2 linked regions of the Homo sapiens genome follow. The protein of the gene in region 1 purifies or fractionates together with the protein of each later gene. This does not show direct contact. Each region holds a gene or a part of one and is shown in the gene's direction. Other genes may lie near its edges. The genes, in order: GOT2 and GPI.

What was found.
Region 2: the proteins of GOT2 (region 1) and GPI fractionate together in Homo sapiens (co-fractionation; 2 studies listed by BioGRID). This does not show direct contact.

The regions. Positions count from the first base shown.
Region 1 is NC_000016.10:58,731,317-58,747,542, reverse strand, and holds the start of GOT2 (aspartate aminotransferase, mitochondrial isoform 1 precursor), read left to right. Parts: upstream 1-13,226; 5' UTR 13,227-13,314; coding exon 13,315-13,403; intron 13,404-16,226. UniProt on the Homo sapiens protein: Catalyzes the irreversible transamination of the L-tryptophan metabolite L-kynurenine to form kynurenic acid (KA). As a member of the malate-aspartate shuttle, it has a key role in the intracellular NAD(H) redox balance.
Region 2 is NC_000019.10:34,370,379-34,386,452, forward strand, and holds part of GPI (glucose-6-phosphate isomerase), read left to right. Parts: intron 1-7,124; coding exon 7,125-7,208; intron 7,209-7,356; coding exon 7,357-7,503; intron 7,504-8,555; coding exon 8,556-8,627; intron 8,628-9,139; coding exon 9,140-9,184; intron 9,185-11,087; coding exon 11,088-11,141; intron 11,142-16,074. UniProt on the Homo sapiens protein: In the cytoplasm, catalyzes the conversion of glucose-6-phosphate to fructose-6-phosphate, the second step in glycolysis, and the reverse reaction during gluconeogenesis.

The DNA.
Region 1 (16,226 bases):
TATATATACGTGTATATATATCTACCTGGATCCCTGGGTGAAAAGGATCCCCGCAATCATTTCTGAGGTCATTCTGGAAATGTTTCCTCTGGGTCTGTCTGGGAGCCAGCAGGAAACAAATGGGAGAGGCCCAGAGAAGCTCTGGATGCAGCAGAACAGAGCATGGTGTCTAGTAAGTTCTAAGTGATGGAACTTGGCGCCATGAACGCCTGAACCCAAAGGTCACTCAGACTGCCTAATCCAAGGACTTGCACATTGTTTTGTTAAAAATGATTCTGGCTGGGCACAGTCACCCAGGAGTTCAAGATCAGCTTAAGTGACAAAGCAAGACCCCATCTCCAAAAAAACGAAACAAAACAAAAAAAACTGATTTTACGTTCCAGCAGAAAGCCAGGTGAGAAGCGGAACGAGGCCAGCTCTTCCAGGTTGGCAGATGAACTGGGGGTCCCCAGGACAGGCTGCTGCCTCTGCGCTGCAGATGCCCAGAGCTCTCGCCGTGGCTGCCCTCCGGCCGGGCCCAGGCAGCAGGGAACCTCTCTCCCCTCCCCACCTGGGTGACTTGATGGCAGTAACAGCCTCTCCCAGCCTGGACCATACCAGCCACGAGGTCTCCTGGCCCAGTCCTGCCAGGCCCAGGCAAAGCCCCTGCAAGCTGCTAGGACACAGTGCCCTTGAGTGGCATGGGTGTGGCCAGGCGAAAAGGCAGGTCTACTGACACAGGCTTGGTCACCTCTGTAGGCCACGGGGCCGTGCAGATCTGGATCCTGGGTTGCCCGGTCTGTCCCAATTGGACAAGACCTCCCTAGGCCTGAACCAGCCAGGAGATGAGGGAGCCCAGGACAACAACAGATGGATGAGTCAGCAGCCATCAGACAAATCTACCAGACCTTAATATAGGTAGAGAGAAATAGTAGAAAAAGAGACCACATTTGGCCAACTGGAAATGCCTACCACCCTTTGGAAAGATTTACTGGCTGTGTGTATAATACACAGAAGGCCTGTGTATATAATATGAAAAAGCTAATCTCGATTTGCCCCCCAACTTTTTAAAAGAAAAAATTTGGCTGGGCTGGTGGCTCATGCCTATAATCCCAGCACTTTGGGAGGTCAAGGCGGGAAGATCGCTTCAGCGATCAGCCTAGGCACGTTCACAACCAGCCTAGACAACATAGTGAGACTCCCTTCTCTGCAAAAAATTTAAAAATTAGCCAAGTGTGGTGATACACACCTGTGGTACCAGCTACTCAGGAGGCTGAGGTGGGAGGACACTTGAGCCTGAGAGGCAGAGGCTGCAGTGAGCTATGAGTGTGCCACTGCACTAGAGCCTGGGCAACACAGCAGAGCGAGACCCTGTCTCAAAAACACAAAGAAAAAGAAAAAAGGAAACATTTGCAGCCAGGCACGGTGGCTCACGCCTGTAATCCCAGCACTTTGGGAGGCCGAGGCGGGTAAATCACCTGAGGTCAAAAGTTTGAGACCAGCCTGGCCAACATGGTGAAACCCCGTCTCTACTAAAAATACAAAAATTAGCTGGGTGTGGTGGCGGGCACCTGTAATCCCAGCTACTTGAGAGGCTGAGGTATGGGAATTGCTTGAACCCAGGAAGGTTGCAGTGAGCCGAGATTGCACCATTGCACTCCAGCCTGGCCTACAAGCGAAACTCCATCTCAAAAACAAAACAAAACAAAACAAAACATTTGCTACATCTAGTCCTTCTAGATGTAAAGAGGTTGCCAATTATGACAGAGTTAGAAAATCACACATCTTGTAAACATCCATTTGTTTTTTTAAAAAATCATAGAGATATGTCTCCTGAAAATGACTTTTTTCTTTCTTTTTTTTTTTTTTTTTTTTTGAGACAGGATTTTGCTGTCACTTAAGCTGGAATGCAGTGATGCGAACATAGTTCACTGTAGCCTCAAATTCCTGGGCTCAAGCAATCCTCTCACCTCAGCCTCCTGAGTAGCTGGGATTACATGCACATGCCACTATAACCAGTTAATTTTTTTATTTTTTATTTTTTATTTTTTTTGTAGAGATAGGGTCTTGCTATGTTTCCCAGGCTTGCCTAGAACTCGTGGCCTCAAGCAATCCTCCCATCTCAGCCTCCCTAAGGGCTGGGATTACAAGCATGAGCTACCCCACCCCAACCCCGCCACCCCCACTGGAAATGACTTTTTGAAATGTAGAAGCACCAAGAGTGACACACGTCCACGTTTGTACAGGGGGTTAGAGGACGTGAAACAGAAGTCTGTGAGAAGGAAGAGAAGGTTCTATGCCAGGCAGGTCATATGGAGAAGATGTTTTCATGTCATAATCATTGTTTCGTGCGTGCATTTTATTCTTCACTACTTTATATATAGTTGACAGTGCAAAGTACTTTTTTGAAATAACTAGTCTTTCTAGACGTTCCGAAGTGCCTGATATATGTTAAAAGTAGAGGTAGTAAAACATCACATTTTGTAAAACTTTTTTTTTTGAGACAGAGTCTCGTTCTGCCCAGGCTGGAGTGCAGTGGCGCGATCCCGGCTCACTGCAACCTCCACCTCCCAGGTTCAAGCCATTCTCCTTCCTCAGCCTCCCAAGTAGCTGGGATTACAGGCATGAACCACCACAACCGGCTAATTTTTGTATTTTTAGAAGAGATGGGGTTTCACCATGTTGGCCAGGCTGGTCTTGAGCTCCTGACCTCAAACAATCCGCAGGCCTAGGCCTGCCAAAGTGCTGGGGTTACAGGTGTCTTTTTGTTAAAATTCATGTGAAATGTTTTTGCCTAGTACACGTCGTGTTTGTGCACCGGTTCAGGGGAAGAAGGAAGCTCACTATAGCCTCTCAAAGTGCGATGAACTCTGCACCACTGTGCTTATAATGAAGCAAGATTAACCACTAGCCCTTCTGTCTGTGCATTTTGTTTTACTTATCTGTATATATCGTGTACATAAAAGATAAACGAGTCCTAATTTACAACAGCTACTCTTTCTAGATGTTAGAGAGGTTGCCAGTGTATGACAAAAGCAAAAGTAGAGTTAGTTAAATTAATATATTTTGTACATTTTGTTTTAAAATTCCTAGGAAAGATTGTCATCTGAAAATTTGAGCATTATAGCCCACTGCGTTGGTGTAGAAGGGAACAGTTTTAGGCCAGAATGTTCATATTTTGAAGACACTGTTAAATGATAACTATTGTGCTCACTTTGGCAGCATATACGCTAAAGTTGGAATGATACAGAGAAGATTAGCATGGCCCCAGTGTGAGGATGACATGCAAATTCATGAAGCGTCCCCTATTTTCTAATAAGAAATAAAGAAAAAAAAAAGCAGGCTAGGCACAGTGGCTCATGCCTGTAATCCCAGCTTTTTGGGAGGCCAAGGTGGGTGGATCACCTGAGGTCAGGAGTTTGAGACAAGACTGGCCAACATGGTGAAACCCCCTCTCTACTGAAAATATAAAAATTAGCCAGGCATGGTGGCGCATGCCTGTAATCCCAGCTACTTGGGAGGCTGAGGCACAAGAGTTGCTTGAACCCAGGAGGCAGAAGTTGCAGTCAGCTGAGATCCAGCCAGGATCACAGAGCCAGACTCTGTGTCAGGGGAAAAAAAAAAATGAAAGAAAAGAAAAGAAAAAAAACTGCAACTATTGTTTCATGTGTGAGGTTTATTCAGTACTGCTGTGTCTATGGAGGACAAATATCCTTACCTGAAACATCTAGTCTATGTAGATGTTTACAAGTACCCAACACATGTTCAATATAGAGGTAGTAAAATATCAATTTGTAAATATCTTTTTGCTGAAATTCATAAGAAATATTATCTTTTGGAAATAAAATTGTTAAACCACCTCTATGAGCAGGATAGTACCATCTATACTTTTCAATGGTTTGCAGGAGGTGGGAGGGAAGGAATTGCAAAAGGTAATATGCTAGTGCATTCACACTTGGAAATTTTCAGACACTGTTTTTCTGCGCATTTTGTTTATTTTGTTTTGCTGTGTATCTAGTGTATGTAATGGACAAATGAGTCCTAATTTTCCAACACCTAGTCTCTAGATGTTAAAAAGGCTGCCAGCGTATGACCAAGTCTTAGTAAAATTAGCTCATTTTGTACAGTTTGTATTGAAATTCATAGGAAACACTGTCCTCTGTAAATGACTTTTGGATATGAGTTTGTGCAACCTCTGTAAGCATTACACATGCCTGTACTAGTCCACTGGATTGATGACAGAGAGAAGGAAGTGAGGAGCATATGGTTCAAGCCCACGATGTTCTCATACTTAGAAGATACCTCAAATTATATGCAAAAACCTCAATTGCTTTTGCACCAACCTATAACAATTGTTACATGTATGCAATTTTTTTTTTTTTTTTTGAGACGGAGTCTCGCTCTGTTGCCCAGGCTGGAGTGCAATGGTGCAGTCTCGGCTCACTGCAACCTCTGCCTCCTGGGTTCAAGCGATTCTCCTACCTCAGCCTCCCGAGTAGCTGGGATTGCAGGTGCCCGCCACCATGGCTGGCTAATTTTTGCATTTTTAGTAGAGACAGGGTTTCTCCATGTTGGTCAGGCTGGTCTCGAACTCCTGACCTCAGGTGATCTGCCCACCTTGGCCTCCCAAAGTTCTGGGATTACAGGCGTGAGCCACCACGCCCGGCCCACATGTGTGCAGTTTTAACAGTGCCATGTACACAGTGGACAAGTTCTAATATGAAACACCTCTGAGAACAGTATAATCTCTGTAGTTGTTCATTGGGTTGAGGGAGATAAGAGGGAAGAAATTGCAAAATGTGTTTTGTTACTGTGTACTAGAAAATTTCAGCTTATTGGATGGGTGCAGTGGCTCATGCCTGTAATCCTAGCGCTTTGGGAGGCTGAGGCGGGCAGATCACCTGAGGTCAGGAGTTCGACACCAGCCTGGCCAACATGGCAAAACTCCATCTCTACCAAAAATACAAAAATCAGCCGAGTGAGGTGGGAGGCACCTGTAATCCCAACTACTTGGGAGGCTGAGGCAGGAAAATCACTTGAACCCAGGAGGCAGAGATTGCAGTGAGCTGAGATCCTGCCATTGCACTCCAGCCTGGGCGACACAAGCAAAACTCCATCTCAAATAAATAAATAAATAGAAAATTTCAGTCTATCCATTGCCCTATATGTTACATGCATTTCACTTAACTTTTCTGTACTGTATGTATTGTGTATATACTGGACAAATGAGTCCTAATTTTATAATGTCTAGTCTCTAAATATTAGTAAATAACACATTTTGTACAGTTTGTGTTAAAATTCATGAAAAGCTGTCTTCTGAAAAGGACTTTTGGAAGTGAAATGATAACATCTCTTCTAAGTGACACATGTCCCTATATCCACCAGATTGTTGGTGGAGAGGAGTTGGAAGAAATGAAGGATTCAAACCAGAATGTTCCTTGGCACTGACAAGGAAGTGAAAAAGTAAAAAGAAAAGAAGAAAAGAAACCAGAATGTTCCTATTTAGAAGATACTTTCAGATATAACCATTGCTACATGTGCCATTTATTTAATATTACTGTGTATATAGTGGAAAACTTAAGTCCTTATTTTTTTATTTTTTATTTTTTATTTATTTATTTATTTTTTGAGACGGAGTCTTACTCTGTCACCCAGGCTGGAGTGCAGTGGCGCAGTCTTGGCTCACTGCAACCTCCACCTCCCGGGTTCAAGCGATTCTCCTGCCTCAGCCTCCCGAGTAGCTGGGACTACAGGCGCATGCCACCACTACTGGCTCATTTTTGTATTTTTAGTAGAGATGGGGTTTCACTATGTTGATCAGGCTGGTCTTGAACTCCTGGCCTCATGATCCGCCCACCTCGGCCTCCCAAAGTGCTGGGATTACAGACATGAGCCACTGCACCCAGCCTAAGTCCTTATTTGAAACATCTACTCTTTCTAGATATTTAGAAGTGGACCAAGTATGTTAAAAGTAGAGGTAGTAAATAGCACATTTTATAGATATCCTTTTGTTAAAATTCATATGAAATGTTGTCTTTTAGAAATTGGTCAATTTAGAAATTGATTTCTCTGAGCAGTACACATTATTATATTTGTGCTAGTTCAGGGAGGAAGGAGGAGAAGAAAGTTCAAAGGGCTTTATACAAGAGTGTTTATGGTGAACAACATTTGACCGTTGTCCCTTACGTCTGTGCGTTTAATTTTACTTTGCTGTGTATCTAGTGTATATAAGGGTCAAATGAGTCCTGCTTTACAACATCTAGTCTTCCAAGATGTTACAGAGCTTGCCAGCATATGACAAAAGTGAACTTAGTAAACTAATACACTGAGTACACTTTACATTAAAATTCATAGGAAAGACTGTTCTTAAAAAACACTTATGGAAGTGAAATTTTTAAAATCCCTTGTAAGGTCAGGCATGGTGGCTCACACCTGTAATCCCAGCACTTTACGAGGCCCAGGCAGGTGGATCACCTGAGGTCAGGAGTTTGAGATCAGCCTGGCCAACATGACAAAGCCCCATCTCTACTAAAAATACAAAAATTAGCTGGGAATAGTGGTGGGTGCCTGTAATCTCAGCTGCTCCAGAGGCTGAGGCGGGAGAATGGCTTGAACCTGGAAGGCAAAGTTTGCAGTGAGCCAAGATTGCACCATTGCACTCCAGCCTGGGCGATAGAGCGAGGCTCTGTCTCAAAAAAGAAAAAAAAAAAAAATCCCAGCCTGGGCGGAGTGGCTCATGCCTGTAATCCCAGCACTTTGGGAGGCCAAGGTGAGCGGATCACGAGGTCAGGAGTTCGAGACCAGCCTGACCAACATGGTGAAAACCCATCTCTACTAAAAATACACAAAAAAAAAAAAATTAGCCAGGCATGGTGGCATGTGCCTGTAATCCCAGCTACTCAGGAGGCGGAGGCAGGAGAATCGCCTGAACCTGGGAGGCGGAGGTTTCAATGAGCCGAGATTGCACTACTGCACTCCAACCTGGGCGACAGAACGAGACTCTGTCTTAAAAAAATAAATAAATAAAAATTAAAATTAAAAAATCCCTCCTAAGCATTGCAGATGCTTATACTTGTCCCCTGGGTTGATAGAGGTAGGAAGGGGAAGGATTCTAGGCCAGAATGTTCCTAGTTAGAAAACATATTGAAATTATAGCCTTTGTTATGTATGTGCACCGTTTACTCAATGGTACTGCGTGTATAGTGAAAAACTTAAGTCCTGTTTGAAACAGCTCATCTTCCTAGATGTTTAAAAATGCACAAAAATATGTTAAAAGGGCTAAAGTAATACCCTTCTTTTTTTTTTTTTAAACATTATAGGAGTGGTTGCATTTTGGGGACAGAATTGTTAAAGTTGATGTCTTGGAGGGTATGCTGACTGCTCATTGGGTGGTGGTGGGTGATGGGGAGGAGGAAGTTTGCAGAGAGAAGGGTTCTATGCCCATGAGTTAGACTACTTCAGATGGCCTAACCATTGTTCTATATGCACATTTTAGTTATTATTGCGTGCATTAAATAATAAAATAAGTTATAATGCTCAAAGTATGTTAAAGTAGAGGAAGTAAAATAATCCCTTTATAAATGTACTCTTGTTCGTTTTTACAAACACCTGTCTTCTGGGAGAGACCTTTGTCCCTAGACCTCTTGGAGCTAGACATAGTCCTGTACTTAGTCCCTGGAATGGTGGAAGGAGAAGAGAAAGGGTGGAGGGAAGGGCTCTTCGGTAAATATCTAGAAGATGGTTTTAAATTAAAATCATAGGTCTACATGTGCATTTTTAGTAAATTAGCTGTGTTTCTTGAGGACAAAGTTCATTGTTTTGCAACATCTAAGCTTTATAGATGTCCCGAGGTGACAGTGTAAGACAGGAGTATTCAATCTTTTGGCTTCCTGGGCCACACTAGAAGAACTGTTTTGGGTCACACATAAAATACACTAACAATGATGACAGCTGAAGAGCTAGAGGAAAAAAAAATCACAAAAAAACTCATAATGTTTTAACAAAGTTTATGATTTTTTTTGAGATGGAGTCTTACTCAAAAATCAAAAACCTGATGATTTTTTCAAATGAGCATTTACTCCATATTGTAAAATACAGAGAAATGGAGACATGGTGGTTGACCCTGAGGGGGAAGGAGTGCTGTCATTTGCTCCTGAGACTGTCAGAGCAGGTGGACAGCTTAAAGGACCCGTGGCTCAGGACCAAAACCTGAAATGCAGTATTCATGAATCCAAGTAATTAATAGTAGGGTTGGAAATATGAGGTGCGTGGGTGAAAAAGCCCAGGGCAATGGCCAGAAGGGGCAGGTCCACAGAAAAGGGGGGTGGAGGGAGACTGGGGAGGTAGACAGCCAGGACAAGGAAGATAATCAGGAGGGGCATAGGCCATGTCTTTTCCTTCCTTCCTCCTCCACATACCACATTACCTCAGTCCTTTAAAGTTCAGATCAAATGTCACCTCCCCCATGAAGGCCTCCCTGATTTCCACAGCTGACATTGAGCCTTTCCTCCTCTGTGCTCCCCTGGCTCACTCTCTCCTCCATCTGATCTTTGCCACACTCTGCCTCCTCCTATTTTAACTTCCCCCCCACCCCTCGCCCCCTGACAGCGTCTCACTCTGTTGCCCAAGCTAGAGTGCAGTTGCACAATCTCGGCTCACTGCAACCTCTGCCTCCCAGGCTCAAGCAATCCTCCCACCTCAGCCTCCCAAGTAGCTGCAACTACAGGCGCACACCACCACACCTGGCTAATTCTTGCATTTTTTTTTGTAGAGACAGGGTCTCACTATGTTGCCTAGACTGGTCTAGACCGGTCCTGGACTCAAGCAATTTTCCTGCTTCAGCCTCCCAAAGTGCTGGGATTACAGGCATGAGCCATTGCACCTGGCCCATATTTTAACTCTTTTAAAAGTTAACTGGTGTACGTCCTTTGCACTCCAGCTGCTTTGAATGGAGATGTGATGGATGAAGCTATGGCTACTATCTTGGACCACTGGGAGTCAACCATACTTTAGGGAGGGCGGGGCGAGGATCTGGAAGGACTTGACTTCCTAAGGACTCTGGGTCAGAAATGCCACCCCAACCCTGGACTGCCTATCTCCAGATTTTTATGTGAGAAAGATATATATGTTAAGTCAATTATTCGGGGTCTCTGTTAACTGCAGACAACCCCAATTTTAACTAAAGCATTGGGAATTATTTCTGACTCCTTTTCTACCTTTCTCTGCATCTAATCACCAAATCCATCTGATTCTACCTCCTTGATATGCCCCAGATCTGTAACCTTTTCTACATCACTGTTACCTCTACCTGAACTCAGGCAATCAGAATTTCTTGCCTGGATTCCTGTGTAAACCTTCCTTCTACCTAGTCTCCCCACTGTAGGGTTGTTCCTTCCAATCCACCTTTCATATCAGGAACTCAAATTAGCATATATACATATGTATATGTGTGTATATATATATATGTATATGTGTATATGTATGTATATGTGTGTATATATATGTATATGTGTATATATATACACACACAAAAAACTATATGCACACACACACATATACACACATACAGAAAAGTACAGAATCCAATGTGACAAATACTCAACCCCAAAATGGTGACAATTGTTAATCTGATCTGTATTTTTTCTTTTTTTCTTTTTTTTTTTTTTTTTTGGAGTCAGAGTCTTGCTCTGTGCCCAGGCTGGAGTGCAGTGGCACAATCTAGGCTCACTGCAACCTCTGCCTCCCAGGTTTAAGCGATTCTCCTACCTCAGCCTCCTGGGTAGCTGGGACTATAGGCACGCGCCACCACATCTGGCTAATTTTTGTATTTTTAGTAGAGACGGGGTTTCACCATGTTGGCCAGGCTGGTCTCTAATTCTTGACCTCAGGTGATCCGCCCGCTTTGGCCTCCAAAGTGCTGGGATTACAGGCGCGAGCCACCGTGCCTGCCTCTTATCTATAATTTTTATGAAGCTAATATGACAAAGTTGTCTCCTTCCCTCCACAAGGGCAAATACGCTCATGCCCTCCTAATCCTGTATTGAACCATATCCTTGGCATATTTTTTCAAACTTTTACATACATTTATGAATAAATGTATGTTATGGTTTTGTGTATTTTAAAAATATTGTCTAAGTGGCACCATATTATATGTATAATTCTATAGCATGTTTATGTTTTTGAGGTCTATCCATGGTGACATCTATTGAGTTCATTCACGTTAGTAGTTCTGTAATGCTCCATCATGAGACTGTAGCAGAACATCCATCTCTTCCTCCATCGATGGGCGACTAGGTTGTTCCCTGTTTTGCTTTTATAAACAATGCTTTACTGACAGCCTTAAAAATGTGTGAGAAGATCTCTAGGGTTTATACCTGGACATGTAATTGTTTTGGGAATAGTAGTTGTTATGTGTTGAAATGTGCCCCCAAAAAAGATACGTTTAAGTTCTAACCTGGGGAACCCATTAATGTGATCTATTTGAAAATAGGGTCTTTACAGATGTAATCAGGCGAAGATGAGGCAATTAAGATGCACCCTACCCCAATATGATTGGTGTCCTTAAAAGAAGAGAAGAGACAGACAGGGAGAGAACACTGTGTGACACCAGAGGCAGAGATTAGTGATGCCTCTAACAGCATACGAATGCCCAGGAGTGCAGACAATTGCCAGAAGCTAGGAGAAGCATGGAACAGAGTCTCTGAGACCCCATAAGGCACAAACCCTGCCAATACCTTGATTTTTGATTTTGGGCCTCCAGAATTGTGAGTGAATAAATTTCTGTTGTTTTAAACCACCCAATTCATGGGGATTTGTTACAGCAGTCTGAGCAAACTGATGTACTGGTATGTTTGAAATTCTTGTTTCTTGGTGCTGTAAAGAAATAGCACTTGAACATAAATTTAATTTCCTCAGCAAGGCCATCTTTATACTTTCGGCAGAAAGGGTACACTCGACAGCAGTTTTGCCATGAGAGTACACCAAACAAAGGAGACAAGGTCACTTATAACCTGATACATCCACCTTGCTGCTGTGTCCGGTTTTCATTGGCTGGAACAGGTCCTCACATTTTGTATTTGTTCTGATTGGCTAGCAACTTAGAACTTTTTAAAAGAGGCAAAGGCAGAGGAGAGCAAAGGAAGGAGGAAGTAACTTGTGGAATGCTGAGAAAGGTAAAAACACCTTCAAATAAGGAAGAGGAACAGGCTATGACCTAATGCTTGCTTGGACCAGTATAAGCATGCCAGGGCAAATATTTAGGCTAAATGGTGGCAGCTAGGAACATAAAGTACATTGATTTCTTTATTATGGCTAGCAGATATTTAAGACTGTTAGTACAGGTCTTTGAATACATTTTGTTTTTAAGAGAAGTTACTATTTATTTCTAATTAGACAGGGAGGAAAGTCTTTAAAGAAGAATCTCTACTTTACTTTTCACAGGTAGAATCCCAAGTCATGGCCTATAGGCGCATAGGTCAAGGTCATATGAGAGCATAAGGGTCTGAGACAGTAAATTGGAGCTGGGCCGGAAGGACCTAGAATGTGGCCCTAAGTAGGGGTTTAGACTTTACCATTCAGGCAACGTGGAGCCACAGAGGAGATATTAAATTGCCAAGGTACACAGTTCTATCTCGGTTTTATTTTATTTATGTATGTATTTATTTATTTATTTAGAGCCAGCGTCTCACTCTGTTACCCAGGCTGGAGTGCAGTAGCGCAATCCTGGCTCACTGCACTCTTTTTTTTTTTTTTTTTTTGAGTCGGAGTCTGGCTCTGTTGCCCAGGCTGGAGTGCAGTGGCGCGATCTTGGCTCACTGCAAGCTCCGCCTCCCGGGTTCATGCCATTCTCCTGCCTCAGCCTCCCGAGTAGCTGGGACTACAGGCGCCCGCCACTATGCCCGGCTACTTTTTTTTTGTATTTTTTTAGTAGAGAGAGGGTTAGCCAGGATGGACTCGATCTCCTGACCTCGTGATCCGCCTGCCTCGGCCTCCCAAAGTGCTGGGATTACAGGCGTGAGCCACCGCGCCCGGCCTGCACTCTTGAATTAATGGGCTCAAGCAATCCTCCCTCCTCAGCCTTCTGAGTAGCTGGAACAGGCACGCAACACCACATCCTGCTAATTTTTTTTTATTTTTTTAAGAGATGGGGGTTTCATCTTGTTACCCAGGCTGGTCTCAGACTCTTGTTTTCATGCTATCCTCCTGCCTCAGTCTACCAAAGTGTTGGGTTTACAGGCATAAGCCAACACACCGGGCCCCTACCTTGGTTTAAGAGACGAGTATCAGAGAAATAGACTACACATGAGAAAGACTCGTTTGACTTGTGGATGTGTCTGAAATTCATTTGCTTTTTCCTTTAAAACCGATTCATTTCCTTCAAAACCGATTCATTTCCTTCCACAAACAGTTATCAGGATTTGACATACACGAGTTTGTCATTAATGACCATGGGTTATTTTGTGCTTACTAAATCAGGCCCTGTTTTAGACATAATCTGCTAATCTTATTAATCCTCACAACTGCCCCACAAAATACACATGCGACCCTCTCCATAAAAGGGATAAGGAAGCCAGGTGCGGTGGCTCATGCCTGTAATCCTAGCAGTCTTGGGAGACTGAGACGGGCAGATCACTTGAGATCAGGAGTTTGAGACCAGACTGGTCAACATGGTGAAACCCCCGTCTCTACTAAAAATACAAAAATTAGCCGGGCGTGGTGGTGGCACCTGTAACCCAGCTACTCGGGGAGCTGAGGCAGGAGAATCGCTTGAACCTGGGAGGCAGAGGTTGTAGTGAGCCGAAATCACGCCACTGCACTCCAGCCTGGGTGACAGAGTGAAACTCCATCTCAAAAAAAAAAAAAAAAAAAAAAGGGTGGGGGATAAGGAAACATTCAGGAACGACGTGACATGACTTGTGCTTAGGGAAACTATTAGGGTTGAAAGTAAGGCCACCTTGGGTCCTAATGGCTGTAAGGCATCAGACAAAATACGTCAACTATGTCAGCCTACATTTTCTCATCTTTCAAACTGCCATAACAGCAGCCACCTCTTCGGCCGGCCAGGCCTGGCCCAGCTGGATTAAATGAATGAAGCGCAGCAAGGGCTGGGCGTAGGTAAACTGTGCAGTCATCCTCTTCCACGACCTCCGCTGAGCCCACGCCGCTCCGCCCGCCGGCCGCCAGGGATCGCTGTGACGTGGCTCGGGCCCAGCACGCGGCCGCTCTGGCCCAGGGAAGTCCCTGTCCTTACCTTCAGCAGGAGCCGGTTCCCTGTGTGTGTGTCCGCTCGCCCTCTGCTCCGTCCTGCGGCTGCCCACTGCCCTCCTACGGTCCACCATGGCCCTGCTGCACTCCGGCCGCGTCCTCCCCGGGATCGCCGCCGCCTTCCACCCGGGCCTCGCCGCCGCGGCCTCTGCCAGAGCCAGGTAAGCCAAGGGAAACGGAGATGGAGCCAGGGCGATGGCCCTGCCCCGCCGAGCTGCGAGCACCCCAGGACATTCACCCCTCCCGGCCCCCAAATACACACTGTCACTCACACGCACACACACACACTTTTCTGCCACCCCCTCGGCTTTCCCTTACTGGGGACTGAGGATTGAGCGTCCGTGCCCCACAGTGATCCTCAGGATCCCACATCCCTCTGGTCCCCGCACTGGGCCCTGCAGGAAGGCGTGCAACGCAATCCCTAGGGAAAGGAAGTGTGGCCCTCGGCGGTTGCCGGACTCCCATTCAGTGGGAGGGGTGCGGATAGTACTGGGGCAGCGGCGCCGGGTAACGACCGTGCCCTTGATAGGGTGCCCTGGGGGCGGCGGGCGCACCTGTCCTGGCCCCCGGCCCGCCCGAGTCGGTGGGCCGGCGGCGGCTGGCTGCCGCGTGTGTGCCCTGGGCGGGAAGAGCGCGAGAGGAAGGTTTCCGGGGCGCCGGCATTCGGGCCTCGCTTTCCTTCCCGCACCTGCGACCTTGGCGTGCGGCATTCTCCTGACCTTGCGACCCCCCGAGGTCCCTGTGACCCCGGGGCCCGTTTGGCCTTTGCTTGGGAAAGGGTCGAGGTGTAGTGTGTCTCTTTTTTTGTTTTGTTTTGTTTTTTCCTTATTGCCCCTAAGGAGGTCCGGTTGCAGGGAGGCTATCAATCTTCCTCTCCATCTCCCTGTGCTCTTTCATTCAGTAAATATTTCGTAACTGCAGTTTCTCAGAGCCAGGCTCTGGACCAGATGCCAACGATACAACTGTGAACAAGGCGAGGGAAGGACAATGACAAATGGTCATTGCTCAAAAAATGACAAACGTAATTTCGTACTGTGGCGTGTATAATAGTATGGAGGGAAATTTCAGAGCTTGAAACGAGCTCTAGTAATTCATTCCCAGTGGAGACCGGAGCCAGAAGATTAATTCAACTCAAGAAGCCGATTTGGAGCACTCTCCTTAAGCACTACCTTAATAAGGAACTGAGTTTTAAAACCACCCCCAAGCAGGTATTAACTGCAAGGAGCAAAGCGTAGCTTGGCCTTTCGTTTGAATGTATGCTCTGTGTCTTTCAGCCAGCAGAACTATCTGTCCTTTCCAAGGCCCCACAGCCTTGGCAGTACAGTTTTGCCCAGGCTTCGCACTTTTTTCTCTTCCTGACTTGGCTCCTTCCTGGCCCACTGTCAACGTGTGCTCTTTAAGTCTGCCTACCTAGTGGGCCAGAGCCAGGAGGAGTTATTTATGCAACAAATTTGGAAAACCAAAGGAGTGCTTAAAATTTCCGTCAAGAGAAAGTATGTTTCCCTATTGCAGTAATCTTAAAATAATACCTTGTTTTATGGATTTGGCTAGATCACCTGAAGCTCTAGTGCTTGGTGAAAATCCCTTGGGGTCAGGGTTAGTCATTCTTTCAGTTTGAGAGTCTGACTCATTTTTCTTTTCTGTATTTTTCTTACTAGAATGTAAGTTCCATGAGAGCGGAGACTTTACCTACTTTATATTCACTGTTACATCTCAGCACTATTAACAGTTGCTGGCATGTCTCTTATATTGGATATTTTTATTTTAAGCCCTGATTTTTCACGTAATGCAACGGAAACAAATACAGTATGACATTTTAATGTTGTATCTTAGATCAAAATCTGAACATAGGCTGGTCCAAGTGTAATGGTGTTTACAACTAATTGATCATAACCAGTTACAGATTTTATTGTTCCTTCTCTCGACTAATCTTACACAGGGGAACCACAGTGCTGCAAAATATGTACCAAAAAAAATTCCCTTTTTTTTTTTCTTTAAATACAGGGTCTCACTGTGTTGCCCAGGCTGGAGTGCAGTGGCACAATCATGGCTCACTGCAGCCTGACCTTCCAGGCTCAAGTGGTCCTCCTGCTTCAGCCTCCCAAGTAGCTGGGACTGCAGGCATACACCACCACACCCAGCTAATTTTTTATTTTTTGTAGAGACAGAGTCTCCCTGTGTTGGTCTCAGACTCCTCCCACATCAGCCCCGCAAAGCGCTGGGATTATAGGCTAAGCAACCCCACCTGACCAGAAAATAAATTCTTGAAATAGTTGAGCACCTAATGTTGAGGAATTACTCTTCAGATTTAAATAATGATACCTGATTAGGTGACAGAATCAGATGCCATATTTGGCATGAAGGTTAACTCTTCAGGCAAGATCAGACTTCCCTCCTTACACTGTGGAAGTGATCTTTACCTAGCTCCAAATGGTAAAAGTGGAAAATACTTAAACTGAATTCATCGACATTTCTATTTAAATGGCTCATTCTAATACAATAAAACCTTGTCTGTTGTTATTCTGAAGAACTGAGGATTTATCCAATGGCATACTTGGAACTCTTTGTAAATATGTGGAACTCTTTGTAAGTTCAAGTGTATCATTTAGCTAAACACTGCGAATAAAACTTTCTCTTGTTGACTTGTACTGTAAATGTATAGTGACATGAGATCAGACATAGTTGCAGTTCAATGAAGAAAAAAAAAGATGCTAATGTATTTTGATTTATAATGATTTGCTTTTAATTATTTAATTCTGATTATTTACTTTTTGGTGAAATAACTGAGCAGGTCTCGTGAGACTTTAAAAATGCAGTGTGCAACTGTGGTACCATAACCATTGGTTAAAAGATCACAGACCAGGCACAGTAGCTCACACCTGTAATTCTAGCACTTTGGGAGGCTGAGGCAGGTGGATTGCTTGAGCTCGGGAGTTCTAGACCAGCTGGGCAACATGGCAAGACCCCGTCTCTACATAAAATAC
Region 2 (16,074 bases), on another chromosome or scaffold:
GTGTGGCTGGTCAGAGTCCAGTTACTTTGGCCAAGAGCCACTTTCAGACCTGAAAATGGGCTGGGTGCAGTGGCTCACGCCTGTAATCCCAGCACTCTGGGAGGCTGAGGCAGGTGGATCATGTGAGGTCGGGAGTTTGAGATCAGCCTGATCAACATGGTGAAACGCCGTCTGTACTAAAAATACAAAAAAATTACCTGGGCGGGCATGGTGGCGAGCACCTGTAATATCAGCTACTGGGGAGGCTGAGGCAGGAGAATCTCTTGAACCCGGGAGGCAGAGGTTGCAGTGAGCCAAGATCACGCTACTGCACTCCAGCCTGGGTGACAGAGTGAGGCTCTGTCTCAAAAAAAAAAAACCAACAAAAAAACCAACCCATCTCTGGAAAAAATAAATAAATCAGCTAGGTGTGGTGGTGTATCCCAGCTACTTGGGAGGCTGGGGTGGGAGGATTGCTTGAGCCCGGGAGGTTGAGTCTGTACTGAGCTGAGATTGTGCCACTGTCCTCCAGCTCAGGTGACAGAGTGAGACGCCTCCAGGGCAAGGAAGTTGTGGGGTCCTGATGGGAATCTGGATTTCCTGAATGTCACTTAGGGTGATCAGTCCATGTGATGGTCTTTGGGTGTGTGGCGGGGCCTTTCCAGCCATCTGCTGTGAGTGGCAGAGCTGAAGTGCATTAAAAGCCTAGTGCTGTGTGATCAGTCTGGGTGTGCTCAGCCATGCCACATGGCGAGGATGGCACTGCACCGTCTGGGGTGCTGTTTCCAGGAAAGCCTTCCCTTAAAGCTGGCCACTGGAGTACCTGACTCAGGCTGATAAGGTATTTATAGTTCAAAAAAAGTTGCTGAATGGCAGTAATCCCCTGGTGAGGAACATTCCCCATGGCTGTGCTCTCCAAAGTTTGCCAAGATTGGGTGAAGACGTTCACTGTGACCTTGATTGTAGTGGCAAAACCTGAAACCAAGCTGTACTCATTTGTCAGGGGACTTACAAAGTAGAGTCAGCACATATTCATATACTGTCATCCTGGGCACCAATAGGGATTAGGGAGCTATAGTTGGATTGATCTGCCATGCTGTTCAGGATGGACTGGGAAGTTGAAAAAGGAAGTTGCAGAATTGGTGGGTATGGTAAAGACTCATTTGGTCAAATGAAGGCTGGGTGTAATTGTAATAAAGATAGACACATTTGGCTTGGTGCAGTGGCTCACACCTGTAATCCCAGCACCTTGGGAGGCCGAGGTGGGTGGATCACGAGGTCAGGAGTTCAAGACAAGCCTGGCCAACATAATGAAACCCCATCTCTACTAAAAAAAAATACAAAAAAGTTAGCCTGGCATGGTGGTGCATGCCTGTAGTCCCAGCTACTCGGGAGGCTGAGGCAGGAGAATCACTTGAACCCCAGAGGTGGAGGTTGCAGTGAGCCAAGATCACGCCACTGCACTCCAGCTTGGGCAACAGAGTGAGACTTTGTCTCAAAAAGAAAAAAAAAAAGACACATTTTTCCTCTGGGATGCTTCATTATAACAAACCTTTGACAGTCGGGAAAGGAGACTTGCTTTTTTTTTTTTGAGACAGAGTCTTACTCTGTTGCCCAGGCTGGAGTGCAATGGCGAGTTCTCGGCTCACTGCAACCTCCGCCTCCCAGGTTCAAGCAATTCTCCTGCCTCAGCCTCCTGAGTAGCTGGGATTACAGGCATCCGCCACCACACCCAGCTAATTTTTGTATTTTTAGTAGAGATGAGGTTTCACCATGTTGGTCAGGCTGGTCTCGAACTCCTGACCTCAGGTGATCCACCCACCTTGGCCTCCCAGAGTCCTGGGATTACAGGCATGAGCCACCACACCCAGCCAAGACTTGCTTTTTCTAACCTCTTTTGTCACACGCCTGTGAGGGAGGGTTGAGAAGTTGAACAACTTATTTTATTTCTTTCTGTATTGATGGAAATTTTCCCATGGCAGTTTATTTAAAGAAAAAGTAGGGCCAGGCACAGTTGCTCACATCTGTAATCCCAGCACTTTGGGAGGCAGAGGCAAGAGGATTGCTTGAGGCCAGGAGTATAATACCAGCCTGGGCAACATAACAAGACCCTGCCTTTAACAAAAATTTAAAAATTAGCCAGCTGTGGTGGTGTGTACCTATAGTCCTGGCTGCTTAGGAGGCTGAGGCGGGAGAATTGCTTGAGCCCAGGAATTTGAAGCTGCAGTGAGCTATGATCATACTCCTACATTCCAGGTCGAGCAACAGAGCGAGACCCTGTCGTTAAAACAAAACTAAAAAATACCCAGCAAGGTGCAGTGGCTCTTGTATAATCCCAGCATTTTGGAAGGGTGAATCGGATCACTGCAGGCCAGGAGTTCAAGACTAGCTTGGGCAACCTAGACCCTGTCTCTTTTTTGTTTGTTTGTTTTTTGAGACAGAGTCTCTCTCTTTCACCCAGGCTGGAGTGCAATGGCCTGATCTCGGTTCACTGCAACCTCCGCCTCCCAGGTTCAAGCGATTCTCCTGCCTCAGCCTCCCGAGTAGCTGGGATTACAGGTACCTGCCACCACACCCAGCTAATTTTTGTGTTTTTAGTAGAGATGGAGTTTCACCATGTTGGCTAGGCTGGTCTCGAACTCCTGACTTCATAATCTGTCCACCTCAGCCTCCCAAAGTGCTGGGATTATAGGCGTGAGCCACCGTGCCCAGCCTATTTTTTTTTTTTAATTAAAAAATAATTTATAGTCTGGGTGCTGTGGCTCACACCTGTAGTCCTAGCACTTTGGGAGGCCGAGGTGGGCGGATCACTTCAGGTCAGGAGTTTGAGACCAGCCTGGCCTACATGGCAAAACCCGTCTCTACTAAAAATACAAACAAAATTAGCCAGGAGTAGTGGCAGGCGCCCATAATTCCAGCTACTCAGGAGACTGAGGCAGCAGTATCATTTGAACCCATGAGGTGGAGGTTACTGAGAGCTGAGATGGCGCCACTGCACTCCAGCCTGGGTGACAGAGCGAGACTCTGTCTCAAAAAAAAAAAAAAAATTTATAACTGGGCATGGTGGTGCATGCCGGTAGTCCCAGTTACTTGGGAGGCTGAGGCAGGAGAATCGCTTGAACCCGGGAGGTGGAGGTTTCAGTAAGCTGAGATAGCACCACTGCATGCCAGCCTGGGTGACAGAGCAAGATTCCATCTCCAAAAAAAAAAAAAAAAAAATTAAAAGAAAATTGCTGGATCTTATTAGTGTATAGTAATTTTTTATTGATGTGTGGGAAATTATTCCAAAATTTAGCAACTAGAAGCAACAATCACCGTCTCTTTATGTGGGGAATTTGCAGTGGCTGTGTTTGGTGTAGTGGCTCTGATATTCTAAGGTTGCAGTCAAGATGTTGGCTAAGGATGTGGTCATTTGAAGGCTTCATGGGGGTTGGAGGGTCTGCTTTGAAGATGGCTCACTAGCAGTGCTGCCTTTGGGAGGCACAGACAGTTCGAGTGTCCTCATGACAAGGCAGCTTATTTCTCCCAGAGTGAGTGATCCAATAGAGAGTAAGGCAGATGCCTGGAGGTCTTTTGTGACCTAATATCAGGATTCACATTCTTTCTTTTTTTTATTTTTATTTTTTTGAGACAGAGTTTCACTCTTGTCACCCAGGCCAGAGTACAATGGCGTGATCTTGGCTCACTGCAACCTCCGGTCCCCGGCTCAAGCGATTCTCCTGCCTTAGCCTCCTGAGTAGCTGGGATTACAGGTGCCCGCCACCATGCCCGCCTTTTTTTTTTTTTTTTTTTTTTTAAATTTTTTTAGTAGAGATGGGGTTTCACCATTTTGGCCAGGCTGGTCTTGAACTCCTGATCTCAAGTGATCCGCCTGCCTTGCCCTCCCAAAATGCTGGGATTACAGGGTGAACCACCACGCCCGGCTACACTCTTTGATTTCTATAATACCCCGTTGGTGTTACAGATCAGCTCTGGTCATCATGGGAAGGGACTGCATCAGTGGGTTAATGCCAGGAGACAAGGACCACTGGTCACCATCTTAGAAGGTGGGGGACTATCATAGTCCCGCTTCTGGCGCCTAGTGATTGATTTTGTTCCTTCCACACACAGATACCCCACTCACTTTCTCCTAAGTCCATATTCTGTTACAGTATTAGAAGTCTGTTAGAAGTCTAGAACCTCATTTTGTCAAGTACAGGTGTAGTAGTACCTGCATTTCCTTTAGTACAGTTCCTTTCAATCTGAAGACATGAGAATTTAAAGAGACAAATTACCCCTCACACACCCAGCATACAATGGTGAGGTGGGCATGGGATGACTGGTATGTATGGGATAATTATTTCTTTTCTTTTCTTTCTTTTTTCTTTTTTTCTTTGTTTTTTTTTTTTTTGAGGTAGGGTCTCACACTGTCGCCCAGGCTGGAGTGCAGTGGTGCAGTCACTGCTCACTGCAGCCTCGAACTCCTGGGCTCAAGCAATTCCCCACCTCAACCTTCTAAGTTGCTGGGACTACAGGCACATGTCACCATGCCTGGCTACTTTTTTATTTTTTGTAGAGATGACGTCTTGCTATGTTGCCCAGGCTAGTTTTAAACTCTTGGCCTCAAGTGATCCTCCTGCCTCAGTTTCCCAGTAAGTGCTGGGATTATAGGCATGAGCCACTGAGTCCGGCCTGCATATTTAGGTTTTTATTATGACCACACTGTACTTCTGATACCAAAATCTGTATTAGTTATCTATCATTGTATAACAAATGACATCAAAACTTGGGTTAAAACAGCAATACACTTTTTTTTTTTTTTTTAAGACGGAGTCTTGCTCTGTCGCCCAGGCTAGAGTGCAATGGCGTGATCTCCACTCACTGCAACCTCTGCCTCCTGGATTTAAGCAATTCTCCTGCCTCAGCCTCCCGAGTAGCTGAGATTACAGGCACACGCCACCATGCCTGGATAATTTTTGTATTTTTTTTTTTTAGCAGAGACGGGGTTTCACCATGTTGACTAGGCTGGTCTCGAACTCCTGACCTTGTGATCTGCCTGCCTTGGTCTCCCAAAGTGCCAGGATTACAGGTGTGAGCCACCATGCCCGGCCTAGCAGTAAACTTTTATTACCTCTCACAGTGTCTGTGGGTCAGAAGTTTGGGAGCGGCTTAGCTGGTTGGTCTTGGTTTGGGGATCTCTCATAAGGCTGTAGTCAACATGTTGGCCAGCGCCCCAGTTATCGGAAGTTTTGATGGGTTTGGAGGACCCCCCTCTAAAGTGTCCCATACACAGGAAGCGAGTTGGCTGTGACTTTTGGAAAAAGGCCTTAGTTCGCTGCCGCGTGGGCTTCTTTATGAAACTGTTTGAATGTCTTCACAACATGATAGACAGCTTCCCCAAAGCGAGTCATCCAAGAGAGCAAAGCAGAAACTGCACGTTCTCTGAACTCACTTCTGAAGTCACATTTCACCCCTTTTTGCAGTCTCTGGATGGGTGCATAGGTCACCCCTCCCAGCACAGGCGGAAGCTATGCAGAGGCATGAATTCCAGGAAGCAAGGATCACTGGTGTCTGATTGGAGACTGGCTGCGGGTCTGATACTCCTTTCCCCAGCATAGCCCAGTCACAGTTTTCAACATTTCACATCTCTTGGTCTCTGGCATAGCAGATTCTGCCGAGTTATCCCTGGTTTTGCAAATTCTGACAGTGTCGCTGTAAGGTAGGGATGTCTCACTGTTGTAACCAGGAAAGAGTCTAGTTGGTGGTGAGTGTGGCAGGGACCAGTGTGGTCTCCAGAGACTCCTATGCCTTGTGTAGTGGCTCACGCCTGTAATCCCAACACTTTGGGAGGTCAAGATGGGAGGATTATTTGAGGCCAGGAGTTAGAGACCAGGCTGGGCAACGTAGCAAGACGCTGTCTCTACAAAAAATAAAATAGGCTTTGCGTGGTGGCTCATGCCTGTAATCCAAGCGCTTTGGGAGGCCGAGGCAGGTGGATCACCTGAGGTCAGGAGTTTGAGACCAGCGTGGCCAACACGGCGAAACCCCATCTCTACTGGAAATACTAAAAATTAGCTGGGCAGGGTGGCAGGTGCCTGTAATCCCAGCTACTTGGGAGGCTGAGGCAGGAGAATTGCTTGAACCCTGGAGCCTGGAGGCGGAGGCTGCAGTGAGCTGAGATCGTGCCGTTGTACTCCAGCCTGGGCGACGGAGTGAGACCCTGTCTCAAAAAAAAAAAAAAAAAGGCTAAAGCAGAGCATTTTGTTCTGTTTTTGGAGTCAGGGTCTTCCTCTGTCACCTAGGCTGGAGGTGCAGTGTTGCGATCTTGGCTTGCTGCAGCCTCAACTTCCTGGACTCAAGCAATCCTCCTGTCTCAGCCTTGAGCCACCCTGCCTGGCCCCTAAGGCACAGTTTTAAAAATAAGTAAATAGCGAGGCGCGGTGGCTCACACCTGTAATTCCAGCACTTTGGGAGGCCGAGCTGGGCAGATCACTTGAGGCCAGTAATTCGAGACCAGCCTGGCCAACATGGCAAAACCTCGTCCCTACTAAAAATACAAAAAAATTAGCTAGGCATGCTGGTGGCGCAGGCTTGTAGTCCCAGCTACTCAGGAGACTGAGGCATGAGAATTGTTAGAACCCAGAAAGTGGAGACTCTGTCTCAAAAAAAAAATTAAAAATAAATAGCTGGGTGCGGTGGCTCAAGCCAGTAATCCCAGCACTTTGGGAGGCTGAGGCGGGCAGATCACAGGGTCAGGAGATCGAGACCATCCTGGCTAACACGGTGAAACCCTGTCTCTACTAAAAATACAAAAAACTAGCTGGGTGTGGTGGCGGGCGCCTGTAGTCCCAGCTACTCAGGAGGCTGAGGCAGGAGAATGACGTGAACCTGGGAGGCAGAGATTGCAGGGAGCCGAGATCATGCCACTGCACTCCAGCCTGGGCAACAGAGCAAGGCTTCATCTCAAAAAAAAAAAAAAAAAAAAAAAAAAAAAAAAAAAATATATATATATATATATATATGGTAAATTAAAAACAAAAAAATAGAGGCACCTGCGAGGGCCTGAAAGCTGGGACTGAGGTACCAGGACACGGCAGTAATGATGTTTTTGAGCAGCGGATTATGCCTGGGGGTTTGGGCTGATGGCATCTTCGCCCCTGTGCCAGCGTGTCCGGAGCGGTGACTGGAAGGGGTACACAGGCAAGACCATCACGGACGTCATCAACATTGGCATTGGCGGCTCCGACCTGGTGAGGAGAAAACTGCCTTGGGGTAGGGTGGGAGTCTGGGCACTGTTGGTCCCACTCAGGTCTTTACTTTCTCCAGGGATGGGACCTGGCTGTCTCCACTTTTCGTGGGCCCTGAATTCTTATTCTCTGATGCTATGTCTCCCCGCAGGGACCCCTCATGGTGACTGAAGCCCTTAAGCCATACTCTTCAGGAGGTCCCCGCGTCTGGTATGTCTCCAACATTGATGGAACTCACATTGCCAAAACCCTGGCCCAGCTGAACCCCGAGTCCTCCCTGTTCATCATTGCCTCCAAGGTATGAGTGCCGAAAACTGCCCGGCCCCTGGCCCTGTGTGTGTTGGGGTGGGGAGGGACAGCTGTCTTGCCATCCCCCTGGCCATTGGTCCCTTTTGGTGGGTTCCGAGTGAACCATGGTTTGTGGATCAGGTCAGTACAGCTGCCCTAGACTGTTTCCATGCCTAGCAGCAAATAAGGTTGACTGATGAAATCCTGAACACATCAGTTTGAACCTTTGTGTCCTGACCACACCCGCTCGCCTTGCGGCATCTCTGCTCAGCCTGGGACTGCTCGCCACTTTCTTACAAACCTGTCCTTTATGCCTGCTCCTTTTCTTGTTGTTGTTTTTGAGACAGAGTCTGGCTCTGTCACCCAGGCTGGAGTGTAGTGGCGTGATCTCGGCTCACTGCAATCTCCGTCTCCCAGGTTTCAAGCGATTCTCCTGCCTCAGCCTCCCAAGTAGCTGGGACTAGGCACACACCACCACGCCTGGCTAATTTTATTATTTATTTATTTATTATTATTATTTTTTAGTAGAGATGGGCTTTTGCCATGTTGGCCATGCTGGTCTTGAACTCCTGACCTCAGGTGATGCACCCCCCCTTGGCCTCCCAAAGTGCTGGGATTACAGTCTTGAGCCGCCATGCCCAGCCATGCTTGCTCCTTTCTGATCCCAGAGCCATGCCCTGATAATAGAGGGGTTTTGTTTGTTTTTATTTATGTTCTATTTACTCACATGAATGTACATAAAATATGAAGAATTCCATCTGAATTCTGAGATACCTTCCAGCCTGGGCCGAAGAGAGCCTCAGGTTGACTGCAGCCCCTCAGGGGAGAAGCTGCGGCCTTTGACCTGCAGGCTTAGGGTTGGGGGGTGTGTTTACCGTCCCCCCTCCTCTGGTTTTAAAGAGCTGGAATCTCAGGAGGTTATGTGGCGTCACTGTCACTGACCTGCAAATACTGCTCCATGGGACAGCTGGGCATTGCCTTGGCCTCTACTGCTGAACCCTGGCTCAAGGCCTGCACCCACCCCTAAGCTCGGGCGCCCACTGCTGTTCTCTTTGGTTGCAGACCTTTACTACCCAGGAGACCATCACGAATGCAGAGACGGCGAAGGAGTGGTTTCTCCAGGCGGCCAAGGATGTGAGTGGGCTATAGGGCCTTCCTCGTGGTTAGCCTCTGGGCTGGGAAGAGCAGGGTGGGCCCCTGAGTGACCAAGTCTGGCCGTGTTTCTCCTGAAGTTGGAAGTGAAGGCGGCCTTGCCGGTGCCTGCCTTTGCTAGATGAGATGATTGTTCATCTTGGCTTTGTCAGACCCAGCCTTGCAGATGTGACAGAACCTGCTCTCGCTGGCTGACAGCCCTTGCATGGCCCTTTCTCTGCAGGCCCTTGGCGCTGCAGGAACTCTTGGCCACACCTATTTTATAGGGGAGGGACGTCCCTGAGCCCCGTATGCTTGTAAGATGGGATGAGCAGGCGGCCTGTGACCCGTCTGCTTTCTTGACCTTGACCTCGATGTGGGCCTTCTCCAACAGTCTCAGAACCAAGGACTGGGAATCTCAGTCCCATGCAGGGCCTTGGTTCCTCTAGTGATGGGAAGTGACTACCCTTTGTCTCCCTGGGCTGGCTGTGGTAACTTGGCTCTGTCTCTTGTAGCCTTCTGCAGTGGCGAAGCACTTTGTTGCCCTGTCTACTAACACAGTAAGTGCCCCCGTGGTCCCCTGTACTGCCTTCCTGGGAGTGCCCAGCATGTCCAGGTCATGGCCTCTCAGAGACGCGGTTCGTAGGTCTGGTGGATCTTGGCTTGGCTGATGGTATGGAAGGTTTGGTTGCCTGTGGGCTGCAAGCCTTCCTTGCCTTTTCCGCATTTACCCATTCAACCTCTGCAGCTTTGAGGAGGGAGGCTTGGAGTCAGTGGGATCACGATAACCCCTTCTTCCGTCTCCCAGGCCTGACTGATACACAGAACCCTTCATACACATGACCTTCCTAGGCCTTTGTGCCCAGCATCTCCCCAAATGTGACATGCTAGGTAGGGGTAGAGGATGCATTCCATTTTTCACTTAAGGACATAAAGCCCCAATGAAGGGAGGTGACATTTTGCCCCCTACTTAGTGTGTGTGGTTTTGTTTTTTTTTTTTTTTTTTTTTTTTTTAAGACAGTCTCACTCTGTTGCCCAGGCTGGAGTGCAGTGGCGTGATCTTGGCTCACTGCAACCTCTGCCTTCCAGGTTCAAGCGATTCTCCTGCCTTAGCCTCCCGAGTAGCTGGGATTACAGGTGCACGCCACCATGCCCAGCTATTTTCGTATTTTTAGTAGAGACGGGGTTTCACCACGTTGGCCAGGCTGGTCTCTGACTCCTGACCTTAAGTGATCTGCCCACCTCAGCCTCCCAAAGTGCTGGGATTACAGGTGTGTGCCACCATGTCCAGCTTATTTTTTGAGACAAGGTCACTCTGTCACTCAGGCTAGAGTGCAGTGGTACGATCTTGGCTCACTGCAACCTCTGCCTTCTGGGTTCAAGTAATTTTTATGCCTCAGCCTGCTGATTCTGGGATTACAGGCGCCCACTACCACGTCCAGGTAATTTTTGTATTTTTGGTAGAGACAGGTTTTCTCCATGGTGGCCAGGCTGGTCTCGAATTCTTGACCTCAAGTGATCTGCCCACCTCGGCCTACCAAAGTGTTGGGATTATAGGCATGAGCCACTGTACCCGGCCCACTTAGTGACTGTATGAGTAGGTGATGCCAGGATTAGAACCTGGGTCTCCTGTCTCCAAGTTCTCACAGTCTGCCTGGCCTCGAGGTTGTGCAGGCTCAGCAGGGCATGACAGAGTGAGGGATGCTCCAGGAGTGACAGCAGCAGTCAGCCAGTGGGCACTGTGCTGTGTCAGAGCTGGGGACTACACCCACATCTCCCTCCCACCCCCTCCACCATCATCCCCACATCTCTGCCTCCAGTGCCTACCCAGCTGCAGCAGGACGCCATAAGGCTGGCTAACCATAGCACTGTTGCCTGCCTGCAACTGACTGGTCAGTAGGGCTTCTCCTCCTATGTGGAATAGGTAAGGAATTGCTGGCCCTGTCTGCCCTGGGGACCAGAATACCTGATGGCTCCTCAGAGCTTCCTGGTGCAGTCACCCTCCCACACATGGGAAGGGCTGGGTGGCTGTTCAGCCTGTGTTTGTTTGCCTGGCCTGGTAGGTGGCCCCTGCCCACACTTGGGTCCCAGTCCTAGGTTCGGTTCCCAGATGTCCAGGGGTATCATGCTCTGGTGTCCCAGGCAGGCCTGGGTGAGAGCTGTTGCAGAGCAGTGTGTGGGCCAGGTCCTCACACGGGGTTACAGCTGCCCTCAGCAGGGGGCTTTGCAGGCACAACGTCACTGGCGTGCTGGTCATGGACTGATCTGGTGTCCAGCTTGGGGTGGGCAGATCCTGGGCCCTGCCCTCGACTCACAGGCTGCTCCAGCCCTGCCCCATCCCTGGCTCTGGGGAAGGTGAGGCTCAGCTCACGGAGCACAGCTCCCTGCCTCCCGGAGCTCCTGTTCCCATCCCGCTAGCAAATGCTTCTTTGCATTTCTCTCCCTTTGTTTTTTTTTTTGTAGACCAAAGTGAAGGAGTTTGGAATTGACCCTCAAAACATGTTCGAGTTCTGGGATGTAAGTACAAGCACTTCTGCACTGGGTGAATTAAGTGTCCTTTGCCAAGTCATGGCTGTTGAGAGGCCCATGAGGTCAGGTCAGTGTTTATTGAGTACCTGCTGCATACCTAGCTTGGGGAAAGGTAGAGAGGCCCTCAGAGAGGCTTGGAGGGCAAGAGCAACCCAGGCAGGATGAGGGCTCCACTTCCACCTGAGGGCGGGCTGAGCTTGCAGGGCCACATGACACTCCCTTGGGTGCCTGCCTGCAACACCCACTGTGGGGTAACCCGAGTCCCCCTTGCCACGCTCACAGAGTTGAGGTTGTGAGTTATTCTCAGTGATGACCTTTCTCTGAACTGCAGCCACCATCTGTAAAGGCCAAGGGCAGGGTGAGGCATGAGGTATGACCGGGTAGGCCTGGAAAGGAGCAACAGGAGCTGCAGGAGGAGCTGGGGGGGTGGCGTAGAGGAGGCGCCAGGCTGGGGCAGCTTGCAGAGCAAACCCTGCCTTGAGTGACAGGGCTGCCGACCCCTCTGTAGCAACAGGTGGTCCATGGGACCACCTCTGCTGGAGCCGAGCAGTGAGCCACAGCTTTCCTTGTGCACTTGCCTGAGCTCAGCAGTGGTGTGAGGAGGGCTCTGACTGTGAAGCCCAGGGTGCAGGGGTGCAGTGCAGGGTGTGATGCAGGCACTGTGAATGCTGTGGGCATGGCCGGGCTTACGTGCAGGGCTCTAACGCTGTGGCAGGCGCAGCAGAGAGGGCATTGCCCATTTGGTGGTTTTCCCACCTGGGGCTGTCTCCAGGCATTTGGACCAGAGGCCCTTTGCTTGGTGATGGCATCCACAGACATAACCTCATTCCTTTGAAAGCTCTAAAGGCCTTTTACTACCAGGGTCTGGGAGAGAATGAAGCCCTAATCCCTTAAGCCATCCACTGTGTATAATGAGTTAACTTCTTTCTAGAATGAGACTAGTTACATACCATCCTTGGAAGAATTGACGAGAATCACTCAAGTCATTTTCTGCATCCTGTGGCTCAGATGCGGAACACTGGTCAAGAGAGACTGTGCGGCTTCTAATAAATGTTGCATGGCTGATAATGGAGGGCAGGCACCTTCCACCTCCTCCTTGGGATCTGGAGCCTGAGCAGGTGGTGGGCAGGGATGTGTGGGTGCTGCTGCCAGCCAAGGAGCCAAGCAGATCGGGGTGTCCTTGCTTGTCACCACCCAGCATGTAGAGATGAGTTAGGGTGTGGCTTAAGGAGAGGATGGGTCTGGCCTCCCAGGTAAGGCCTAGGAATGATAGCTGGACACAGGAACATGGGGCCAGGGCTGGCTGGTGAGACCTAAGTGGAGGCCTCCTGGGCCAGGCTAGACAGCCCACAACGGCTGGAGGAGGGACCTGCCTGAGTTACTAGAGTGTATCCTGCTGAATCAAGAAGGTGATATCTGAAGAACCCAGGGATAGGAGCAGGCGAAGTTCCTGCAGGTGGGGTCTCGGGTGAGCTACAGCCATCAGCTCAGGCCTAGGGATGCAGTGCCGGCCCTCAGGTGAGATCAGAAGAGTCCCGTCTGGTAGGGGTATGTAGAAGAGGTAATTCTTGGTCCGCCAGGGCCAGTTTTGCGGCAGCCATGGGTGTCGGGATCAGGCAGGGGTGTGGTGGGAAACCATGGGGTCTCTCAGGGCTCGGCCAGGGTCAGCGCACGCCACAGGGCCAGTTTTGGCTGGAGAGGCCTGAAGCAGAGCCAGAGCAGGTCCAGGTGAGTTCTGAAGAGGAGCCAGGACAGGAGAGGGACCCATAGGTCTGTGAATTCCAGAGGAGAGGCAGGTATTTAGAGGTGGTTCTGTCAGGTGAAGTCTGAGGAGCCAAAGCTATGTATGTGCATATGTCAGCCGGGCTCTGTGGGAGGTGGTGTAGACCTATGGCATGGGACAGGTGTGCACGCTGGGATCTCTGGCCGGTTCCGAAAAGTGAGGATCAGGTAGTGGGTGGCTGATTGCACAAGTTTAGAACCCAGGATTAGGGACACACAGGTCAGCACCTGCTTCTCAGCATCCTGACTGGGTGTGATGGGCAGAGCTCAGGGCGTCAGAGGCCTCTGAGAATTTGTGACTGAAGTCCAAGTCTGTGGCATCAGGGTCTGCAGAGCCCAGATGCGGGAGAGGTAGGAATGTACCTGGTGATATGAGGCAAGGACAGGGGAGCTGGGGCAGGTGAGGCAGGCAGGTGGCATGAGGAGCTGTGCTGGGTGGGTGCGGTCTGAGTGGCTCAGGTTGGGTAAAGGGCCAGAGACCTGGGTCTACAGGGCAGACATCAAGGCTGAGCCAGTCAGACAGTGTTTGTCAACACTGGGCTCTCACCAGGCTCCCTCAGGCCGAGGTCAGCAGCCAGGGATCTGTCATGTGTGAGGAAAGTGTCTGTTCAGGTTAGGTGTGTATAATGCAGCCTTTCAGAGCCGCGTCTGTCTGAGGTCCTAGGAGCTGGAATCAGACAGGTTTGTATGGCTGGGTTTCTAGGGGAGGCCTGAGGAGCCAAGACTGTACTCAGGTAGGCAGAACTGGACCAGTCTGGTAAGGACGTTGGAGCTAAAGATAGGCAGACAGGTCGAGCTGGGTCTGACAAGTGAGGGCTGAAAATCTGTGATTGGGTCCAGGTTGGAGCTGTGTCCTTGGGCGATGTCTGAGCAGCTCTGGTGGGTGAGCCTGGGTCCCCTGGGAAGAGACCAGACAAAGGGATGGGGTCAGACAAAGGGATGACGAACCGCATCCATCAGAAAGGTGGATGAAGCCTGGGTCTGGTCGAGGTACGTAGAGCAGATCTAGCAGGCGAGGTTTCAGGGGTTAAGGTGAGACACAGGTATGTATTTTTGGGTCTCACAGGTTAAGGTCTGAGCCACTGAGGTCAGGCTCTGGTTTGTATCCCAAGACCGAGAAGCTGTGTTAAGCATGGTGGGTAGAGTTTGTCAGGTGACATCTATGAAACCAGGAGCATGCAAAGATAGGTTGACCGGAACAGCCATGGTCAAACCAATTAAACTGTCCTGCAGTTGAGGTCAGGCACAGGTAGAACGGATCTATCAGGTGAGGCCCAAGGAGTCCGGATTAGGCTCATCTAGAAAGACCTGGATGTGGTAGATGACCTCTGAGGATATGAAGTGAAGGCAGGTGGATAGAGCCAGGTCTCTCAGGAGGTCTGAGGAGCTGGGATCTGGCACAGTGAGCAGGTCTGGATTTCCCAGGTGGTGTCAAGACAGATGGGTAGGCCAGGCACAGTGGCTCACACCTATAATCCCAGCAATTTGGAAGGCCAAGGCAGGCAGATCAGTTGAAGTCAAGAGCTCGAGACCAGCCTGGCCAGCATAGCGAAACCCCGTCTCTACTAAAACTACAAAAATTAGCCAGGCATGGTGGTGCATGCCTACAGTCCTAGCTACTTGGGAGGCTGAGGCACCAGAATTGCTTGAACTGGGGAGGCAGAGTGAGCCAAGATGGTGCTACTGCACTCCAGCCTGGGTGACAGTGAGACTATCTCCAAAAAAAAAAAAAAAAAAAAGCGGGGGTTGGGTGTGGTGGCTCATGCCTGTAATCCCAGCACTTTGGGAGGCCAAGGTGGGTGGATCATCTGAGGTCAGGAGTTCAAGACCAGCCTGGCCAACATGGTGACGGGGTGAAACCCCATTTCTACTAAAAAATACAAAAATTAGCTGGGTGTGGTGGCACACGCCTGTAATCCCAGCTACTCAGGAGGCTGAGGCAGGAGAATTGCTTGAACCCGGGAGGTGGGGTTTGCAGTGAGCCGAGATCATGCCACTGCACTTCAACTTGGGCAACAAGAGTGAAACTTTGTCTCAAACAAAAAACAAAAAAAAAAAAAAAAGAAAAAAGATGGGTGGGTAGAAGTTCTTCTCCTGGGTGAGGTTGAGGAGCTGTGGCCAGGTACAGGTATGTAGGTATGTGGAATTGAGTTTCTTGGGTGAGGTCTTTGGAGCCTGGCCCAGGTACATCTTCGGGTCTATCAGGTCTGAAGAACGGGAGTTAAACACAGGTGTGTAGAACAGGGTTTGGCAGGTAAGGTCTTTGGAGCCAGGATCAGGGCAGCTTCACAAAGCTGAGTGTGTTCATGAGACCTAAAAAGTCATAGTCAAGCCCAGGTAAGAAGAACCAAGTGTGTTGGATGAGGTGTAAGCAGCTGAGGTGTGAAGTAGAGGTAGGCAGAGCTGGCCCACAAGGTACAAGCTCAGGAACCCTCATCACATGCAGGTAGGGGGTGCTGGTCCACCAGGCACAAGCCCAGGAGCCAGCATTGAGCACAGGTAGGCAGACTTGGCCCACCAAGTATGATCTGAAGAGCCAACATCAGGCTCAGGTAGGTAGATCTGGCATGCCAGGTGTACTCCAAAGAGCCAGAGTCAAACACAGGTAGGTAGAGATAGTCTTTCAGGTGTGGTTTAAGGAGCCAAGGTCAACTACAGGTAGGTAGAGCTGGCCCACTGGGTGTGGTTTGAGGAGCCAGGGTAAGCACAGGTAGGCAAAGCTGGCCCACCAGGTATGGTCTGAGGAGCCAGGGTCAGACTCAGGTAGGTAGAGCTGCCTGCCAGGTATGGTCTGAAGAGCCAGGATCAAGTACAGGTAGGTAGTCTGGGTCACTAGGTGTGGTCTGAGAACCCAGCGAAAAGCTCAGGTAGGTAGAGATAGCCTTTCAGGTGTGGTCTGAGAACCCAGGGTCAAGCACAGGTATGTAGAGATAGCCTTTCAGGTGTGGTCTGAGAACCCAGGTTCAAGCACAGGTAGGTAGAGATAGCCTTTCACGTGTGGTCTGAGAACCCAGGTTCAAGCACAGGTAGGTAGAGATAGCCTTTCAGGTGTGGTCTGAGAACCCAGGGTCAAGCACAGGTAGGCAGAGCTGGCCCACCATGTGTGGTCTGAGGAGCCAGGGTCAGGCAGGTAGACAAA